Regions from separate parts of the Homo sapiens genome. Here region 1 is linked to region 2. The links come from fine-mapping of genetic effects on gene expression. A gene starts in region 2. The other region holds a variant in brackets. All regions are shown on one strand. Distances are from middle to middle. Region 1 has its middle 33 kb from the start of ZNF740. Region 2 holds the start of CSAD (cysteine sulfinic acid decarboxylase).

What was found. PIP is the estimated chance that this variant, and not a neighbour inherited with it, causes the effect.
Region 1: its variant is fine-mapped to the expression of CSAD in whole blood (TOPMed, PIP above 0.99).

The regions. Positions count from the first base shown.
Region 1 is chr12:53,145,804-53,148,730 of GRCh38, forward strand. No RefSeq gene overlaps it. Among named protein-coding and RNA genes, the nearest start is that of ZNF740, 33 kb to the right of the region's middle. The variant C/T (reference allele first, on the strand shown) is at 1,770.
Region 2 is chr12:53,179,271-53,182,197 of GRCh38, forward strand. CSAD (cysteine sulfinic acid decarboxylase) reads right to left here and starts at 1,655. Exons shown (of 17, transcript NM_001244705.2): 1 at 1,462-1,655. It overlaps ZNF740 (zinc finger protein 740), which reads left to right and starts at 1,452. Exons shown (of 7, transcript NM_001004304.4): 1 at 1,452-1,567; 2 at 2,407-2,722. The coding sequence starts at 2,714. RefSeq lists an enhancer at 921-1,479 and silencers at 1,142-1,231, 1,522-1,821, 2,175-2,469.

The DNA.
Region 1 (2,927 bases), 33 kb before region 2:
GCCTGCACATTGATGAGGACAGATCTTCTTTCCTCAGTACAGCAATTCAAATGCAAGCTCTTCTAGAGACAGCCTCACAGACACACCCAGAAATAATGTCTACCAGCTCTCTAACCTAGGCCAGTTGACATACAACATCAACCGTCACAGGCCAGACATTAGGGCTCATGTCCCTAATCCCAGCACTTTGGGAAGCTGAGGCAGGAGGTTCATTTGAGCCCAGCCTGGCCAACATAGCAAAACACCATCCCAGGCCAGGCGAGGTGGCTCACGCCTGTAATCCCAGCACTTTGGGGGACTGGGGTGGGCAGATCACTTGAAATCAGAAGTTCCAGACCAACCTGGCCAATACAGTGAAACCCCGTCTCTACTAAAACAAAATACAAAAATTAGCCAGGAGTGGTGGCATGCACCTGTAGTCCCAGCCACTTGGGAGGCAGAGGCTGGGGAATTGCTTGAACCCAGGAGGTGGAGGTTGCAGTGAGTCGAGATCATGCCACTGCACTCCAGCCTGGGCAACAGAGCAAGACTCCATCTCAAAAAACAACAACAAAAAAAGAACACATCATCCCTACCAAAAAAAAAAATCAACCATCACAGCAATAAACCTCTCACTAAAATGAACAGGAAGAAAAAAAAGGGAGAAAACACAAATAATTAATATCAGAAATGAAAAAAGTGACAATATAGGTTCTACAGAACTGAAAGGATAATAAGAAAATAAGTTTATGTCAATAAGTGCTGAAACGTAGATGAAATAGACAAATTTCTGGACAGGTTTGGTGGCTCATGCCTGTAATCTCAGCTCTTGGGAGAGTGAAGCGGGAGGATCGCTTAAAGCCAGAAGTTTGAGACCAGTGTGGGCAACAAAGTAAGACCCCATTTCTACAAGAAAAAAAAAATAGCCAGGCTTGAAGCATGCTCCTGTAGTCTCAGTTACTCAGGGAGCTGAGATGGAAGAATTGCCTGAGCCCAGGAGTTTGAGACCAGCCTGGGAGATAGAGTGAGACCCCATCTCAAAAAAAAAAGGAAAGAAAAGAGACTGTTTTTTTTTAACTGCTTCTTGTGGAACAGGGCTACCTCATAGGCAGTGTCCCCAAGACAAATTTCTTTCTTTCTTTTTTTGAAACAGGATCTCACTCTGTCACCTAGGCTGGAGTGCAGTGGCACGATCTCAGCTCACTGCAACCTCTGTTTCCTGGGCTCAAGTAATTCTCCAGCCTCAGCCTCCCATGTGCTGGGATTACAGGCATAAGCCACCAAAGCCTGGCTAGTTATATATACATACACATATATATAGGGGTGTGTGCATATATATATATACACACACACATACACACACATATGTGTATATATACATATACACACCTACACACATATATATGTGTATATATACATATACACACACATATATGTGTATATATACATATACATACATATGTGTATACACATGTATATGTGCACATATGTATACGTATATGCACATATACATACATATATGTATACATATATACACATATATGTGCATGTATGTATACGTATGTGCACATATGTACATGTGTATGCATAAATACATATATGTACATGTGTATACATAAATACACATATATGTACATGCGTGTACATAAATACACATATATGTACATGCGTATACATAAATACACATATATGTACATGTGTATACATATATACACATATATGTACATGCGTATACATATATACACATATGTACATGTGTGTACATAAATACACATATGTACATATGTGTA[C/T]ATAAATACACATATGTACATGTATACATATATACACATGTATGTACATGTATATATATACACATGTATGTATACGTATATACACACATATATGTATATGTATATATACACACATATATGCATATGTATATACACACACATATGTGTATATGTATATATGTATATATACACGTATATATGTATATATACGTATATATGTATACATACACGTATACATGTATATATGTATGTATATATGTGTGTATATATGCATGTATACGTGTGTATGTATATATGTGTATGTATATATACGTATATAGACGTATTATACACATATACGTATATATATACGTGTATATACACGCTTATATACACGCGTATATACACGCGTATATATACACGTATATGTGTGTGTGTGTGTGTGTGTGTGTGTGTGTGTATTTTTTTTTTTGGTAGAGATGACGTTTTACCATGTTGCCCAGGCTGGTCTCAAACTCCTGAGCTCAAAGCAATCCACCCACCTCAGCCTCCCAAAGTTCTGGGATTACAGGCGTGAGCCACCATGCCCGGCTGCCAAAACAAATTTCTTAACAGACAAAAACTACCAAAGTTTACCTAAGAAGAAACAGTCCTGAATAGCCATTATCTTTATTTTTTTTTTTTTTTATTATTTTTCTTTGAGACAGAGTCTTGCCTTTCGCCCAGGCTGGAGTGCAATGGTGCTGTCTCACCTCACCGCAACCTCCGTCTCCCGGGTTCAAGCAATTCTCCTGCCTCAGCCTCCATGGGCCATAATTCTATGAAACTTGTAATGCTAATGCTAAATCAAGGGTTGTGAAAACACTGCCATCTTTATACAAAACCCAACCTCCAGCCGGGTGTGGTGGCTCACACCTGAAATCTCAGCACTTTGGGAGGCCGAGGCGGGCGGATCATCTGAGGTCGGGAGTTCCAGACCAGCCTGACCAACATGGAGAAACCCTGTCTCTACTAAAAATACAAAATTAGCCGGGCATGGTGGCACATGCCTGTAATCCCAGCTACTCAGGAAGGCTGAGGCAGGAGAATCACTTGAACCCGGGAGCTGGAGGTTGCTGTGAGCCTAGGCCACTGCACTCCAGCCTGGGCAACAAGAGCGAAACTCGGTCTCAAAAAACAAACAAACAAACAAAAACCCAA
Region 2 (2,927 bases):
ACAGTTTTTTAAATGTTAGCTGACTCAGATGTCTAAAATACACTGTATGGCGCATTACAGGTGCTCAATAAATACTGGTTGAAAAGATTTTTGTATGAACACAGAAAAAAGCCTAAAAGCATATATACCAAACTGGTAAGAATGATTCCCTTCAGGAGCATGGGATAAGTAGAGGGGGAGAATAACCATTTTGTGTCTTTTATACTTTTGCGTTGTGTCGATTTGTAAAATAAGTAGGAGCTAATTTTCAAAAAAGATTTAAAAGACTTATTCCTGGTGATGTTTCTTTATCTCTCTCTTTCTCCATTTTGTCTCTATTTTAGAATGATCCTAAAACACAAAAAACGTACTTTCAATGGCCCAAATCATGGAGTGGCTCAGGGAAATGAAATCTGTCTACAAAAAAAAAAAAGTTGAGAATCCTTGTCTTTTTTTCATCATACAGTTTTTTTTTTCTTTTGGTATCACCATTACTTCTCCTAAAGTCACGACATAATATCACCTACAGCAGAAATGAGGACTTCAGTGGAATTGACATCTCCTTCCATCAAGCGCATTTGCAGTCCATCTTTAGCAGGACCTCTCTCTAATGGCTAAGGCTAGGCAGAAGAATTTGAAGACAGTCTGGTTTCCATTTTCCTAATGCAGCCTGGCCCAAGAGCCAGGACTCCCATAAGACTAGTCTACTGTGGGAGTCAGGGTCTTTTCCACGTGTGGAGGCTAGTGTTTGATGCTGGACGGCCTGGAGTAAAGGGCGAAGGGGAGAAGGTAACCAACCAGGCTGGCCTCGGGATTCGCAGAGGAGGGCTGGGGCTTTGACTTCTGCAGGGAGGTGAGCAGTGTGGCCAAGGGCTACTCAAGGAACGCCTCTGCGAGAATTCAGACTGTGGTTGAGCGCACAAAGCAAGAGTGTGCGAAGAAAAGTTAACGCCTCTCCCAGCTGACCCCAAAATCTGCTAATCTGGGCCTGACGGAAAAAATTCGGAGAAGAACCACCTCGGCCGAGTTACGTGAAAAGGCTGGGTACGAACTACTCTGGCTCTACTTGGGGCGCCGGCTCAGAGCGATGGGCAGGACGTCCGCGAGGAAGAAAGAGTGACGATGATTTTTCAAGGAGTCTGAACCAGCTCACCCAGCAAACCCTCCTCCCATCGAGCACCCAGCGTACAATCATCGAAGGGCCGAGGGTCCTGCCCTCAGTCTCGATGGCGGCCGGGGCGCGCCCCGGCCACGGCGCACGCGCCGGCCTCAGCGCTCCCTCCTCCATGCCCTCGGCGCACGGCGCCGCCCACTCACCCAGCTGCACCTCTCCGTGCGTCCCCAAGCTCACCCGCTCTGAGGCTGCCCCCGCTAGTCTAGCTGCCGAGCCCGGAAGTGGATGCAGCCGCTCGGCGGAGAGGACGAGGGGGAGGGGGAAGTGCTTCCGGGGAAACGGGCCGGGGTTGGTGTTTGTAAACTTGCCTCGGTCCCGGTGGGGGCAGCCGCGGCGGTGGGGTTGGCAGGGTGTGCTGGGGCCTGGAGGAGGCGCCGCGCGGCCAGGGAGCCAGCGGGAGGCCGCGCCTGGCAGGTAGGAGCAAGCCCCAAAGACCGCAGCGTCGTCCGTACAGACGGCAGCGCTTCAGTAGCTCGCAAGCCGTGGGGTGCCGCGCGGGAAGGGGGAGGGGAGGGGAGGAGGGGCGCGTGGCGAAGGGAGGGGGATCTCCGGGGGAGGGAGGGGAAAGGCCGTGCGCGCACACCGCCCCCTGCCCGCGCGTCCCGCCGCGTCCCCGGCCCGGGAGAGGGCTCTCGGAGGGGACGCGGGCGCGAGCACGCATCTCGCGCGCTTCTCGGCACTCTCCGGCTCTGCTCCCGGTTGGTGCAGCGGGTGCAGAGGCTGGCTGGCCGGAGCGAGGCGGGCGACACGCCGCGCCGGGCTTCGCCTGCCTGTCCTCCACCTCCGCAGCAAGTTTCCCTACCTTCGGGCGGACGGGGAGAACGCACACGTGTGGGCACTGCCAGTCCCGTTTCTGCCCGCCACCGAAGCACCCAGCGATGGCCCTTGAGCTTTCCTCCACCCTAGTCTTGCCGCCTCTGTAAAGTGCGAGCTTTTCGGGCCGGCCCACTGGGCACAAAAGCCCCAAAGGGTCTCCGCCCCCTTCTTCCATTCCTGAGATGGCAAATCCAAGCAACTTTCCTTTTGGCAGAGTTCCTCCATAGGAGGCCCCAATTACTTTTGCTCCTGTTGGCTTCCACTCCTTGCCCAGGAGACCAGTTCCTCCTATTGACCTAGAAAGAAAACTCTTCTTGACTCATGTCCTCGTTCTGAGCTTCACAGAGAGCGCCCAGCAAAAAAAAAATTCATATCGCACGTTGTAATGGCCTGAAGATGTTGCATTTAGCAGCCCCCCTCTTCCTTTCTGGTTTCAGGTTTCTGAAACAGATCGTGAGCTTCATCAAGAGAATTCAACTGGAAAACCAAGACTGGTAGACTCTCTTTTTCTTCAGACAATAGGCAGGAGCCAGGCAGAGTCCAGGGATTCTTGGAACACCTATCTTTTCTTCGGAGGACACTAAGTTCTATTTGAAGACAAAGTTCAATATGGCAACAGGACTGATGGGACACGAAGGAGTCGCTACCGTGATTTGGTGACAGTTCTTCAAAACGACAGTGTCTCAAGGAAAGGTGGACCTAGGAACTCCTGAACTTTTGGGTTGCCTTAAGTGAGAAATCAGCATGGCTCAGGTAAAAAGCTCTAGAGTCCTCCTCCAAGATAACTGGGAAGCCTGTTTGCAGTTTCACTCTTGAATGCTGCCTTAGTCAACATATTGACCAACCCCAGTGATCCAAGCTCTGTATTAAGCACCAGGGGGAGATCTAGAGGAAGGAAAGGAGACAGGCCACAGCCCCTGCCTTCAGGGAGCTTCCAGTCAAATGAAGGAGGTAGGCT